Linked DNA regions of Homo sapiens. The protein of the gene in region 1 purifies or fractionates together with the protein of each later gene. This does not show direct contact. Each region holds a gene or a part of one and is shown in the gene's direction. Other genes may lie near its edges.

The links. The genes of interacting proteins can lie anywhere in the genome.
Region 2: the proteins of TENM3 (region 1) and TSPAN5 purify together in Homo sapiens (co-immunoprecipitation; one large-scale study listed by IntAct). This does not show direct contact.
Region 3: the proteins of TENM3 (region 1) and PACC1 purify together in Homo sapiens (co-immunoprecipitation; one large-scale study listed by IntAct). This does not show direct contact.
Region 4: the proteins of TENM3 (region 1) and EVA1C purify together in Homo sapiens (co-immunoprecipitation; one large-scale study listed by IntAct). This does not show direct contact.

What each region holds. Positions count from the first base shown.
Region 1 is NC_000004.12:182,246,402-182,249,901, forward strand, and holds part of TENM3 (teneurin-3), read left to right. Parts: intron 1-3,500.
Region 2 is NC_000004.12:98,648,612-98,652,111, reverse strand, and holds part of TSPAN5 (tetraspanin-5), read left to right. Parts: intron 1-3,500. UniProt on the Homo sapiens protein: Part of TspanC8 subgroup, composed of 6 members that interact with the transmembrane metalloprotease ADAM10.
Region 3 is NC_000001.11:212,412,087-212,416,374, reverse strand, and holds the start of PACC1 (proton-activated chloride channel), read left to right. Parts: upstream 1-1,488; 5' UTR 1,489-1,617; coding exon 1,618-1,653; intron 1,654-2,294; coding exon of another isoform or gene 2,295-2,477; intron 2,478-4,288. UniProt on the Homo sapiens protein: Chloride channel gated by pH that facilitates the entry of chloride ions into cells upon exposure to extracellular acidic pH. Involved in acidosis-induced cell death by mediating chloride influx and subsequent cell swelling.
Region 4 is NC_000021.9:32,503,206-32,506,705, forward strand, and holds part of EVA1C (protein eva-1 homolog C isoform 1 precursor), read left to right. Parts: intron 1-720; coding exon 721-810; exon of another isoform or gene 811-898; intron 899-3,500. UniProt on the Homo sapiens protein: Binds heparin.

The sequences.
Region 1 (3,500 bases):
GCCCCGCTCTGAAAGAGCACAGGAGGTAGAAATGTCTTCCTTTTCTAGGATATAGATGGTGTGGGTATCAAAGCCATTGTTGACAGGAAGGAGGTGGTGTTGGATAAGAGACTAAAAATAGAGCCGGAGTAGTAGTTTGAATCCAGCAAACCAGCCCTCCTTCTAAAATTCTGCAGCACGATCCCATCACGTAAGAATGTGTCTCGTCCGTATGTGACAAAGACACGGTTTTATTGACCTTAAACAAATGGGCTATGTCTGCCAGAAAAGCTTGTGCCGTCTTGACTGTATTCATAAGAAATAGAGAGATATGAATCATGCCATGTAGGTTCCAGGGCGGGGGCGTTCCCTCCCTCTCGTCCTTCGCTTTGCCTTGCATTATTGCAGACGACAGCAGTGCAGGGATGAACTCACTTTCTAGGGAGGAAGCCGCCAGTAAATAACTAAACAAAGAAGATAAGTTCCGATAATCATCGCTGTTAAACTGAGACTAAAACGAGAGATGAGGTAGTGACTGGGAGTGGAGGGGAAGTTGATTGAGGTGGATCACGAGGGATGCCTCTCTGCGGAGGCGATGCCCACATCGAAGCTCTCAGGATGAGACGGAACCAGCCGTGTGGGCAGCTGTGGGAGGACGCAGAGATGGGCAAATGTAAAGATGCGAAGAACACCAGAAATGGTGTTTTTGAAGGACAGAAAAATATGAGTCGAGCTAGAATCTAATGAGCAAAGAGAAACGAGTTAGATGTGATTTTGGAAAGGGAAGGCAATGTGTTTCTCTGTGTGCTGATCAGTCCTGAGGTGCTGCAGCAAGAAATTGACATATAGAGGTGGATACCAGAATGGTGAGGAGTTTGGAAGAAAAACCCTATGAAGAGCGCAGTCGGAACTGGGGGTTGGTTGTCTTACGAAGAGAAGACTGGAGAGAGAGCCATGATAAATGTCTGATTATTTGAGATGTGATCTACTGGAAGCATTACACAGATGATGGTTCCATAGAGTGGCCCTCAGACCATTGAAAGGGGCCATGGCTAAGGCAGAACTCACCCGCCTTAGAAGGAAGCACTTTAACCCTTGACCTCATCCATCCAAAAATGGAACGAGCAGCTTCACAAAGCTGCGCTGTTAGTTTCTAGTCACAAAGTGTTGTTAGGCAAGGACAGCTTTAATTTACTAGATTTTAAGATTTTTCAGGCCAGTGACTTTGTTTTCTGTCCATGTTATATCTCTGGCAAGTACCTGCGGGTGGATGCTCAGTCAGTGTTTACTGAAATGACAAATAAGTAAATCGCAGTAGCAACTGGACCAAGGATGGCTCAGGCAACCTCTCAGATTATACCTAATTCTAGGATTTTATAATTCTGTGATATGAGTAAAAGCAGAATTATTTTCAATACTTAACAAAATTTTATTGGGAAAAATAAAGAACTGTGAACATTGGTGAGAAGTCTTAAAAATAACTTCCCAAACTCTAGCAAATGCACCCTCACCCTTTCCCTGCAAAGCTCCCCACGCAAACTCTTCTGTGTTTCCTAAGCCATGAAGTACAATAGTGCCATTGCTGTTTGTCAGTGACATAGAAAATATTATTTAACTTTATTTAATGGGGGATTTTCAGATAATTTGGACTTCAAATATGCAGTTTTGAAAGTTGATCTGAAATACATCACTTATAATTGCCTTTAGGCTTTTAAGCAAGCATATATGAAATACATTTCATTATTTTATTCACTATATTTCAGTTAAAATTTGCTTTTAAAATATAAAGTGCCTGGGTGCAGCAAACCACCACGGCACACGCATACCTGTGTAACAAACCTGCACGTTCTGCACATACATCCCAGAACTTACAGTATAATAAAAAAAATTTTAAATAAAAATAAAGTGTCACTAAAAAAGTATATCAATAGTCTTAGCCTTATTGTCAAAGAAAAAAAATGGAAATTCTTAGACCATTTTCATCATTCAGAGTATAAAAAATGTTGACATGTACTCTATTGTACAGTGATCAAAGGCATTATTGTACATTCTTTAATTTGAGGTGATTCTTCTAATGTGTAGTACCAATTATTCTGATCTCTGCTGAAAAGTGATGACATGTGGTATTTTTGTTTAACATAGATCTAGTAAGTTGGGTAATTTAAGTAGATGGTTAAATATACTCAGTACCTGAAATAAGCTTGCGTATATGAAGCTTTGATTTATGGAACTGGCGGAGATTCAGTCAGTAACAATGTAATTTTAAAATAGCATCTGCATTGAGTGGATTACAAAGGAGACCACGATTTTCCTTCATTCATTCAACAAATAATTACATGCCTACTACGTGCCAGCTCATATTTGAAGGCCTGGGATACCACAGTAAACCTGACAAAAACCCTGCTGTTACCGAGTTCCTCATAACTACCAAAGGGTTGCAAATGAGATGTGGAAAGTTCTTTATAACCATATATATCTACAGAGCACTTTATAGTTTACAGAGCACTTCCCCAAACACCTTTAGGCCTCTAAAACCTATGAAAAAGGTGCAATAGTAATAGCAATAGGACAATAACATAATAAACATGTATTGAGTGTTTACTATGTGCCAGACCCTCCTCTACAAACTTTATATGTTTTAACTTGTGAATTTTCAGAACAACCCTGTGAGGTGTATAGTTTTATTCCGATTTTGCAGATGAAGAAATTAAGACACAGACAGATTAAATTCCTTGGCCAGAGCTGCATAGCTAATAAGTGGTAGAGGACATGCTATCACCCACACCACCAGCTGTGGAAATGGGAGTCATGTGGTCATGAGTTACCTGGGTCGCGCAGCCAGATGGAAGTGGAATTTAGGTTTTCCGATTTCAGGGCCAGTGCTTTTCTGAATGCACTGCAGCTGCCTACCTCCAAGCAATGACATTGTTAAAATGATTAGTAAGCTTTTGCTGAGTTAAGCTGTGATAACAAATAATCCCCAAATCTATGACTTACAACAAAGGTCTATTTTTTTACATATTTTGTGAGTTATATGAGTTGATAGTGGCTGTACTCCATGCTGTTTTCGTACTAGAAGGAGAAACTATTATCTCACATATTCTGCTCTCACAGCAGGAAAACACAATGGTGGACCATGCACTGGCTCTTAAAATCTTCTGCTCCATCGTAGACTGAACCGCTTCCTCTCACATCTTCTTGGCCAAAGCAAATCATACAACGAATGGGGTGGGAAATGTACGTCCCCCCACAGTGAGGGCACTAAGTGGTGGTGGTGGGGGTTGGGGACCTCTGAGGATGGGTCTGATAGAGAGGGGTTGCAAATATTTTGAGCAATTGTGATGTTTTTATATAAATATTCTTAGTTAGTGGTTTTTATTTTTTATTTATTTAGTTTTTTTAGAGACTAGGTTTTGCTGTGTCACCCAGGCTGGAGTGCAGTGGTTCAGTCATAGCTGATTGTAGCCTCACACGCCTGAGCTCAAGGGATCCTCCACCCAGCCTCCCGAGTAGCTGAGACT
Region 2 (3,500 bases), about 84 Mb from region 1:
GAGGCTGGAGGATGGCTTGTGCCCAAGAGTTTGAGACCAGCCTGGGTAACATAGTGAGACCCTATCTCTACAAAAAAAAATTAAAAATTAAAAATTAGCTGGGTGTGGTGATGCGTGCCTGTAGTCCCAGCCACTTGGGAGGCTGAGGTGGGAGGATCACTTGAGCCTGGGAGGTTGAGGCTGCAACTGCACTCCAGGGTGACAGAACAAGACCCTGTCTCAAAAAAAAAAAAAAAAAAAAAAAAAAGTATGTTGAAGGAAAGAATTACAAAATCATCAGAAAGTACGTAGGAATCATCTCCTCTAACTTCCTAGTCAGTGAAGCATTCTCCATTGTATCGTGCCTACCTTTCTAAGCATGGATCTGTTTTTGGACCACTTTAATTGTAGAGTTTCATCTGTTCAAACTAGATGTTATCTGTCTCCCCATCATTTCCATCCTCCTAATTTACTGTTCATTTAAAATTTTTATTTGGAAACATTAAACCAATAGGAAAATTGCAAGTAGTATAGAGAACCTGTTTTTATCCTGTTTGAGACAAAGTTGCCAGCATGTTGGCTATCACACAAACAGTTGAGTATGTATTTTCTGTAAACTGGACTATTCTCCTAGATCACCACAGTACAACCATGAAAGCCAGGAAATTACCAATGATACATTAACACCATTTAATCCTTAGATTTCATCCAAGTTTCCCAGTTGCTCCCATAATGTTTTAAAGCAAAAGAATTCAGGTCAGAACCACACTTTGTATTTAGTTACATGTTTTTAGTCTCTTTCAGTCCTTCACTATCATGCTCTTGATACTTTTGACAATTATAAGCCAGTTATTTTGCAGAATGTCCCTCAGTTTGTGTTTGTGCCATTTTCACAAGCTTAGATTCAGGCTGTGCATCTTTGGTAGGAATAGTACAGAAATGGTGCTGCGTTCTCATTGTACCCTATCAGGGTGGCATTGATTTCTGTTTGTCCCATTACTGATGATGGTCACTTGATCAAGGTGTTGTCTGCCAGGCTTCTCTACCATATAGTTACTCTTTTCTCATTTGTAATTTATAAATGTTTTATGGCAAATTACATTGAAACCATGTAAATAGCCTATTCCTCATCAAATTTTCAATCTGTTATTTATTTATATCAGTAAGAACTTAGTGTCTTCCTTTTTTCAGTGTGGTTTAATGTTACTGTCATTACTTTATTTAAAATGGCCCTAGGTTTGGCCAGTGCAGTCTTTTCACATTGGCTCCTGTGCTCTTTTAACTCCCATCAGTCTTTGAGCACCATCTTGCTCTCTGGCAGAATAAGATGTTCCAAACTCATTTTGTGATTTACCTGTGTCATCTTTTGTATCAGACATTTCTCCAAGGAGCTATTGAATGGAGAATGGAATTTAGAAGCCAAGATCTGGTTGCTTGGTGTGCTCATTGCTATTAGGGTGTTGCTACTCTGTGTATATACAGACACACATGTACATCTGTAATTCTGTATCTATGTACTTTTAAAACCATGAGTTTACAGTCATACCTTAAATTCCTGTCTGATACCACAGGGTTTAGTTTTTCCTCTCCATATTTTATAACTGCTTTATTTGACAGTGAGATTCTTGGTTCGCATTATTCTTAACAGTTTACTTATTTGGTAAATCTCCCCATATGTAACCAATCTTCTGCAGCTGCCACCACCTTTCCTCCTGGGGCTGCCCTCCTCAGCTGTTAGTGCTCTAGCATCCTGTGCCACCACCCCCATCCCCATATGGATACCTTTCTCCCTGAGATACCCTGCTCTGGGCTTCCACAGCATCCCTCTTCCTACGTTTTTGTAAACGTAGGAAGCCTACCAGATTGGACCTACCTAATGGCTTTGAATTTTCAGGAAGGAGAAGGCGAAGAGCCTCGGCTACTCTTGAATGATGTAAAATAAGACTTATCTTCCTTCCCCATGGTCCTTCATTATTTAAAAATAGCCATTATGTCATTCCTAAACATTCTGTTTTCCACCTTTAAAAGCTCCTAGTTCCTCCATGTGTTTACACTAATGATGTTTTTCTTGTAAGCATCTCAAAGAGTCTTCCAAACATATTATATCTTTGTGACAGATGAAGAAATTGGAGTACAGAGATGTGGAGTAACTTTTGAGATGTTGAAGAGCATGTCAGGGTTCGGTTTTAGAGTGTTAGGTCTACATATACTGTTTCCAGATTGTTCTTTGCCCTGGTCACGGTGCTCTGCCTAGGGTCCCATTTGGACACACCTCTATTAATGCAGCAACCAGAATGAAACACGTTGTTCACAGGCTTTTCTAACCATCCGAAGAGCAGCAGGCTCTTGAACTCTCCCTTCAGTCCCTAGGCTGTGCTGTGCCTGGTGGCAGAAGCCTCTGCTACTGTCTGGAATTGACTTTGAGTAAGTTACTTTCACAGATTAGTTCCTCAGTTGCTCATCTAAAAAAACCAGGAAAATAATTTTCTGCAAAGTTGTTATCCAGTATTATGTGAGATCATGCATATCAACGTGCTTCATAAATGGTAAATCTCTAAATACAAATACTAGTTATTAACCCAGGCTAAACTGCACTTGCTTTCCCTGGCAGCCAACGAACACTTTGGCTTGGATTGACTTTTTAGTGAAATAAAACCTTCACTTTTTCAAGTGAACTCTATTAAACCATCCCCCTAAGCTATATGCTAATCAGAAGCCCTAACCCTCCAGTTAATTATTTGAATTTAGATTTAGTTCTGTTTATTTCTCCCATTTAAATGTCTTATTCTGGCCCATTGGATTTCAAACCTGCTACCAGCAATCCTAGGCCTCCTTGAGGCGTATGTGGGTGGGTGGGTCTGTGCTGGTGGGGTGTGGACTGAGCAGTACCTCTCTTTCCTCCAGAAAAGCTTGGTTATTAGTTTGATATTTTGGGATACTAAGAAAGATTTTGCTTGAAAAAAGGGGTCCCACCACTTAAGAAAGAAAAGAACCAGTATTCTAGCCTTTAGATGTCTTTGAATCTTGATGGCCAAAGTACATTTTTAAAAAAATTACTCCTCGTGTGGGTTTTTATCTCTTGGAATCTCTCCATGCATGGGAAGTCCCTCTCACTAACTAGGGGTCACTTCTGTAGGATTAGTTGATATTTCACCCCTTTATGCATGTAGTGTGGCAGCCTGATTAGTAAGGAAATTTCAGTCTTCCCACTGGGAGATCTGGTTCAGTAGGTCCATCCAGGATGGGGTCCTGGAATTTCTGTTAAGAAAAAAATCAAAACTTCCTGCAGGTCATTGTGATGCCCAGCTGAGTTTGAGAAGCTTTAGCTTGTTTTTCTTGGGAAGATGTGGCCTCTCCTTCCCGTTGCTCCCTGGAGGGGATGTGTGGGAGAGCTGGGCGTGGGTGGTGTAGAGCGGTGACCATTTCACCAGCACATGAAGCTAGTGTTCTTTGCTTACGAGAAAAAAAAGGTGGCCTATTTTATCCCTCATGGAATTTTTTATTAATCCAAAAACGCCAGT
Region 3 (4,288 bases), on another chromosome or scaffold:
GGGTATCTTATCCATTTCTGTATCCCAGTGCCCAGCACATTGTATTTGTTAAGCCATATTTTATATTTTATTAGCCAGTATCTCCTTCAAATGTGGGAGCCCATAATTTTCCAGTTTGGTCACACCAACAAAGACTAGAGAGGAATGACAGGGTTGGAATAGAATTCTCTGGTTCCTTCCAGCTCTAATATTCTATGATGGTGTGAACTTGTTCTATCAAGTACCATTGTATTAACACAGTAAGGAATTTAATTAGTGGTCTGCTATTGTTAATTTGTTTTGGTAAGCAACTGTTAAATGAAATGGCTGGAATCAGTGTTCCATTCATAAATTTAACAAACATTTGTCGAGTGCCTACAATGTGTTAGGCACTATATATATTGTCCCATATAACAGATTTAAGAGCAGAGGGCCTAGGATAGGGGTGAGTGGTCAGGAGAGGTGATGGGGACCTCCCATTGCTAATGCTCCAGGAGGTCCAGGGTTCTTTGATGTGGCTGGCACTATTCTGCTTATCACTGAGGAGAGAAGAGGCTCCCAGTGGCCTGAGTGGAGGGGTTACCAAGCTGCAGCTGCAAGGGACACAGAGCAGCATTCACCAAGGCACAACAAGCAGCCTCTATCTGCTTCACCACTGAGGAGCCGAGGGCCCTCACACAACAGCTGTTTCAGGCAGTGGGAGGAGAGGAAGATGTGGTCTTCAGGTCCACCCTGCCACAGGGCCAACACCAGATTTGACGCCACATCTAGCGCTTGAGGCTTCTTCTGTGGCTGAACAGCGGCTTTAGGCTTTCTCTGCACGATCCTTCCTTTCTGCTTTCATAGGCCTTGTCAGGCAGGGCAGGGTTTAGCAGTTGCATTCTAAGGCGAGGAGAGGAGGGCTCAGAGCATTGCAAGACCTAAAGGGGAGGGTCAGAGCCAGGACAAGAACCTAGGGGTACTCCTGCCCCTGGAATAATGGAGAGAACATGGGCTCCGCAGTCTACCCCTGGATGAAATAATCTTCATTTGATTACCGCTCCACCCGCATCCTTTCTGAAACAAAGTACCTCAGTTTCCTCATTTGTAAATTAGGGAGAAAAATGTCCTTCTTACAGGGTTCCTTGCAGAATCAACGGCATAATGTGAGTGAGAGCGCTTTGTAACTAACATACAAAGTGCTCTCCAGACATTTATTACCGTTTTAAACCGCCAGGCCAAGCTTCCTCTTGCAATTATAGATTAGGGGCTCCTACTCATCTGACTTTGTTCCACTTTCCACTCCTCTTCTCCGTCCCTCCCCCTCCAACAAAGAGAGGAAGTGAGAGACGCAGAGGCACGCGTCTAAGGACCAGCTTAGCTGGCCCAGGGTCACATGCAGGCCTCCGCCACAGGGGTGAGAGCTGGTGTGAGGGGCGCCCCCGCCCAGAACTACATTTCCCATCAACACTTTCGCGACTCCTGGGCGGCAGCGGCCAGGCGCATGCGCCGAGTATCGCCACGCCTGGTCTCTGGGACGCCCCTCCGGACCGGTTTCGCCTCGCGGAGCCGGTAGGTCCAGGTGCAGCGGCCGCAGTGCTGCGTCCGTGCGCCGCGGGCTGGGGCGGTCTCAGGTGTGCCGAAGCTCTGGTCAGTGCCATGATCCGGCAGGAGCGCTCCACATCCTACCAGGAGGTACGAGGTTGTGAGAGACGGAAGGGAAGTTTGAGGCGGAGGAGCAGGGTCCCGGGGGCCTGGGCGGATGCGGGGCGGGGGGTGTCGGGGCTGCGCGGCAGAGGGCTCTTCCGAGGGACCGACGGGTGCGTCAGGGGAGGGCTCCCGGGGTGCAGAGGAGCGGCCCAGGGGCAGGAAGGAAGCGGGGCAGCGGAGCGGGCGCCCAGCGTTCTCCGTATGCTGCGGGTTGCATGGCCGAGGTCCGGAGTAGGGTCCCCGGCGCCGCGACCCGTAACCAGCAGGTGAATGATTGAAGCTACCTGAGGCCCAGCCTTCCGCGCTCCCCGCCGGAGCGGCAGCCCAATGGCCCAGAGGAACCCGGCGTTCTTTGCAACAAGTGGAGCGCCCGCGCCCTCCTCCCGGCGAGATCTGATGCGCGGTCGGCATCGTCGGCATCCTCCCCCTCCAAGCCCAAGGCCTCGCTGTCCCCGCGGCTGGTGACAGGATTGATTACCTGTTTTTTGGTGACCACCTAACTTTGAAAAAGTGCCTTCATGGACTCTGCTAGTTCTCGCTCCTCTTCGTCTCTCCCTCCAGTCTCACCTCCTCCCACGACTTTATCACTTTCCAGTTCTTTGTCTCTTCTCTGTCCTGCGCTGCAGGCTGTGCGTCCAGCGCTTCCTTCAAGCAAGCCCTGCCTCCTCACTTCTCCAGCTGTATTAGTGAAACTGCTCTCCTCCTCCGCCTCCACTTCTCGGCCCCCAAACCTTGGTCATCTTTGGCAACCGTCCTCTTCTGTGCCCCTCCATCGTGCCGCCTCATTGGCCAAAGTCAGGCAGTTCCAGGTCGGTCCTCCTCCAGTTTGTGTCCCTGTGTTTGCTGTAACCTCTGAGTGCGATACTGTGTTACCATCGCTCCCTTTAGTCTCTTATACTCTCCAGATTTGCCTTGAGGCCCTGCCTTCACCTCGGAGCATTCCTTTTTTCTCAGACCTGACGCTGCCCTTCGTCTGCCCAGAACAGTCCAGACTTCTCAGCAGGCTCCCAAAGCTCTGAACAGCACAGCAGCCATGTCTCCCATTACCTTTGCCACCTCCTAACCCACCTAGGGTCTGGCACAGTGGAAACTCAGTTTTAAAATGTGCTCCTGCCTCTGTGCGTGTGCTCACTCCATTCCTTCATCAACGCTCCGCCAAGCTCCATTGGGTAAAATGCCCCCAGAAGTCAAGGGCTACCTCAAGTTCCATGTGTTCCATAGGGGTCCGCTTTCCAGACCCGTCTGCATTTCTGTCTGTCCTTCTCATAATGAACTTGCTGCCTTCTGTCTTAGTCAATAGTTACTGCTGTACATATCTCCCTTTGTAAAAGACTGATTCACAGAAGGGCTTTGTGGACTATATAAAGCAGGTGGCTTAGCCCTACAGTGGAGGGAGAAGCCAACTTGAAGGCAGATGAGATTTGCCTAAGGCTTGCCATTTTTTAGTGTAGGATCTTGGCTGGAATCTGGCCTTGGACAGATTTCTATATTTCTCCTCCCATCCCCTTTATTCCATCTGTTTCCTTTGTCTGAAAGGAGTCTGAGGGATTTTAACCAGTGCTGTGGATTCCATGACCCCTAGATTCTGTACCCTAAACAGTGGGGGAATCCTGGGGAATGAGATGTGTCTGAAAGTTTTTAGGTTTATAGGGTGTGGAGCACAGTGGATAAAAGTCAGAAAGCCCACGTTCGTGCCTGGCTGTGCCTCTTGCTGTTTGTGTGACTTTTATTGAGTCACATAACTTTCTGAGCCTCAGTTTCTTTGTCTGAAAGATGAAGATAATAAAAGTCCCTACCTCCCAGGGTTGTTTGGGGATTAGATAAGTTGGTGTGGAAAGCGCTTGGCTCAGTGTCTGGCAAATGGTGACCCCACAGTGAATGATAGCTCTTGTTAACGGTGTGGGCAGCTCCTGCGTCCAGGATGCTTTGGGGTCCTGGCTTAGCAGGAACATGTGCCTCACCATCCACACATAGCCAGCCTAGCAGGGCTTATAAAATGTTTATTAAAATATAGGCACTTACCCCGCTTGGAGGGCCAAGGCCCAGGGTAGACTCAGTTTCTCTTTGGAGGCATCTCCAAAGTGGGAGGCACTGGAAGGGTGCCCTCCCCTTGCCTTCTTCAGAGGCCTGTTCTGGAGTCCCTGTCTCTCACTTCCTCAGAGAATGGGGCCACCCAGAAAATGGCCGGCGTCTTTCTTCCTGAACCATTCTGTGAGTGTACCTAGCTCTGAGTAGGTTTATTTGCTGAGGGGGGATTTTTCCTTGGGGAGGGTGGGATATACTGAGAATTTGGCCAGGGGCAGGCAAGGAGGCAGGCTCATTATGGCTGTGGGTAGTCAGGAAGGGAACCTGGTGGGAGGGTGTTAGCACCTGGGTCAGGGTGAACCTGAGTGAGGCTTGAATCAGGGAACTTTGAGATTTCCCAGGACTAACATCCTCCTCTCCCTTTGGCCAGTGAGACCTCTTTATCTGTGCTCCTGCTAGTGGCTTATATCTCTTGGTGCCTTCACCAGCCTCCCTGCCCTTTCCCACTGGTTGCTTTTCTTTTCTTTCTTTTTTTTTTTTGAGACTGAGTTTCACTCTTGTCACTCAGACTGGAGTGCAATGGTGCGATCTCGGC
Region 4 (3,500 bases), on another chromosome or scaffold:
TGTTTTATCTCTGGCCACACAGCAGACATCAAATCCATGCTTAAAGTGAAATATTATTGGCCGGGAGCAGTGGCTCACGCCTGTTATCCCAACACTTTGGGAGGCCGAGGCGGGCAGATCACCTGAGGTAAGGAGTTCGAGACCAACCTGGCCAACATGGTGAAGCCCCATCTCTAATAAAAATACAAAAATTTGCTGGGCATGGTGGCACGTGCCTGTAATCCCAGCTACTCAGGAGGCTGAGGCAGGAGAATTGCTTGAAACCAGGAGGTAGATGGTTGCAGTGAGCCAAGATTGTGCCATTGCACTCCAGCCTGGGCAACAAGAGTGAAACTCCATCTCAAAAATAAATAAATAAATAAAATAAAGCGAGATATTATTAAGCCTCTGAGGGGTGTGATGAATGTCACTGTCTTTAGGATGGGAAAATCCACTTATTCCCTTCCACAGTGGAGTGGAAGACCAGCACCTGAAGTTGGAACCAACACTTAAAACAATTTCTAATCCTTTTTGTACTTTAATATTGTCGGGGACTGCTTACTATTTAATAAGTGCTCTTCCTGGGTTAATCTTCTGTAATTTAGCCAGAGGCCCATTTGTTTGATTTCTGTGACTTTTAATTATTCCGGCGGTCCCTGGGGTAGGAGCAGCAGGGGTGTCTTAGAATAGGCGTACTATGAACAGCTGTGATTAATTGGTCTTGCATTTTTCATGAAACAGGTATAAACTTCGACCCAAGCGGATCGAAGGTTCTGAGGAAAGATGGAATTCTTGTTAGCAACTCTCTGGCAGCCTTTGCTTACATTAGAGGTAGGTCAATGAATCAAAGCTTCCTAGAATGCTGATGGATTTACTAAAGTCTTGTTAATAAATGTGCTGTTCAATTATAGCACTCAGATAACTAAAGGACGATGACTTCAAGTTTAACATGCCAACCACCACTTCTAAGATTCAGAAACACAGAGGCCTGAGTTCAGGCACAGTTGTAACCAGGCAGTCAGCAAGAGAACCACATAAACAGACAAAGTCACACTATTTAGGAGTTGAGCTCCACAGATATTTTTCGCTTTTGAAAAGTAGAAACCCGAGGAATGCATTTCCCAGCTCTAAAATTCGGGAAGGAACTAGGATTATTGAATTCCAGCCCTGACTGGAAGAAAAATGAGCCAGAAGGTCACTTAGTAAACAAGACAGATCATGCCCCATGAAGACAGAGCCACTTTCTGGGTCATGAGTGTTATTCCTAATAGTTGTCAAGGATTCCCTTGTTAGTCTTCCCCATGAGGATCAATCAGACTCAGCCCTCATGAATTAGCAGAGCCAGAAGGCTTATACCAAGGCCGGCCACACCGCGGGGACCTCTTCATTGAGGGGAAGGTATGTACAATTTTTCCTCACCACCCTCTCTGCTTATCTTAAGATAGAACACATTTTGGAATGCCATCTGCAAGTTTCAGCAATGCCTGCCTATGTTCAGAGAGACAAAAACCAGAGACCTTCAGTAAAATACATGTTAATATAATACATAACAGTATTGCTATTCAAGGCCTGCAAAGATGGGCTATTTGGGGTAAGCCTGTCTCAGAGGAAAATAGAGGCTTAGGGAATGTATTTGTCTGTTCTCATGCTATTAATAAAGACATACCTGAGGCTGGGTAATTTATAAAGGAAAGAGGTTTAATGGACTCACAGTTCCACATGGTTAGGGAGGCCTAACAATCTCGGTGGAAGGTGAATGAGGAGCAAAGTCACGTCTTACTTGGTAGCAGGCAAGAGAGCTTGTGCAGGGGAACTCCCCTTTATAAAACCATCAGATCTCGTGAGACTTATTCACTATCACCAGAACAGCATGGGAAAGACCCACCCCATGATTCAATTACCTCCCACCATGTCCCTCCCATGACACATGTGGATTATGGGGGCTATAATTCAAGATGAGATTTGGGTGGGGACACAGCCAAACCATATTGGGGAATGATCTCAATACATGAGATGCAAAGTTCAGTCTTGGGGTCCCCTGCTGTTCTATTGTCCTCCTGCGTCAGGATTCCTCCTGTGTGTGTGTTGTGTGGTTGATGGTTTCTTCTGTGGGTCCTCTCTTTTCTAGCCACCTTCTCATTTTCATGTCTTGCTGTTCCTGATCATTGTCAATGTTAAGAACTGTAAGGATTTTTACTGTCAGAAATATCCCCATATTTACAAAGTCCTTGGGGAGCTTCTTGGAGAAAAGCCATCATGAAAATCCTCCAGACAGAGAATAACGATTGAAGGGGAACGAGACCGACATTGCGCTCAGTGAGCTGTGGCCTTGCTGTGTGCTTTACCCCAACTACCTTGTCCGTTCCTCTCAACAACTGCCTTAGCCAGCCCAGCTGCCATAACAAAGTACCCGAGACCAGATGGCCTAAATAACAGACATTGATTTTCTCACCGTTCTGGAGGCCAGAATTTCATGATCAAAGTATCCACCAATCACTTTCCGGTAAGGGCTCTCTTCCTGGGTTGTGGACAGCAGCCTTCTTGCTTGTCCTCACATGGCAGAGAGGGGGAGAGACAGAGACAGAGACATCTCTTCTTTTTATAAAACCACCAATTCTATCAGATTAGGATTCCCCCCTTATGGCCTCCTTTAACCTTAATTAGCTCCTAATGAGTGAACTGGGGGCAACACAATTCAGTCCATAGCAACAACCCTGAGAGATGGGACTCTGATCCCCTGTTCTGCACTTGAAGCCGGTGGTCAGAGGAGTTGAGCCATTTGCCTGAGGACACCATGGACAGCGGCAGGGCCAGGATTCAGGCTCAGCTAATACAAGGCTTGCACTCCAGCTACTCTGAATTTTGAGGGATGCAACCACCTCCCCACTCTGATCCTGAGTTGTCTAAATTAGCTTTCCTCCATCTCTTTCTATCCTTTTATGTGATTGTCATTCCCAGAAACCACAGGATAGAGATATTCGTTTAGTGACTATCTCTCCTGCTAGTGGCTCAGCTCCACAGGGTCAGGTGCCTTGTCATCTTATTTTGTGTGGTATCCCTGTATCTAGGATGCGGTGCTGGTACAGAACAGGTGCACAGTCAGTAGTTAAGGAACAACTGAATGATGACTGCTGATATGGGCTTATGAGCTTTTTCCTGTGCTTTATTGTCATCCAATATTTGCTATTTATAAGATGTCCATTTTTTTAAAATGTAAGGACTTGATGAGCTGTTATTTGATTTTATTGAGGGGTGTTTGGTGACATTTATCTTAGCAAACCATGACCACGCCTCCATATAATGTCCAAGAGAAAGAGTCTCTAAATGCACTGTGTTGGATGTTAGCTAAATGAAATCACCACAAGAAGCTCGTGACTCAAATCACAGAGGCTCACAAAGCCCTAGTAGAACAGGTGCCTCTGGGCTTGCCTGTGGGTTTTCTTGGTGTGTCTATGTCGCTGTCTGGGTGGCCACTCTAGAGGTGGGAAGCATGCAGTGCATGCTCAGGGGTCTGCAGGCCA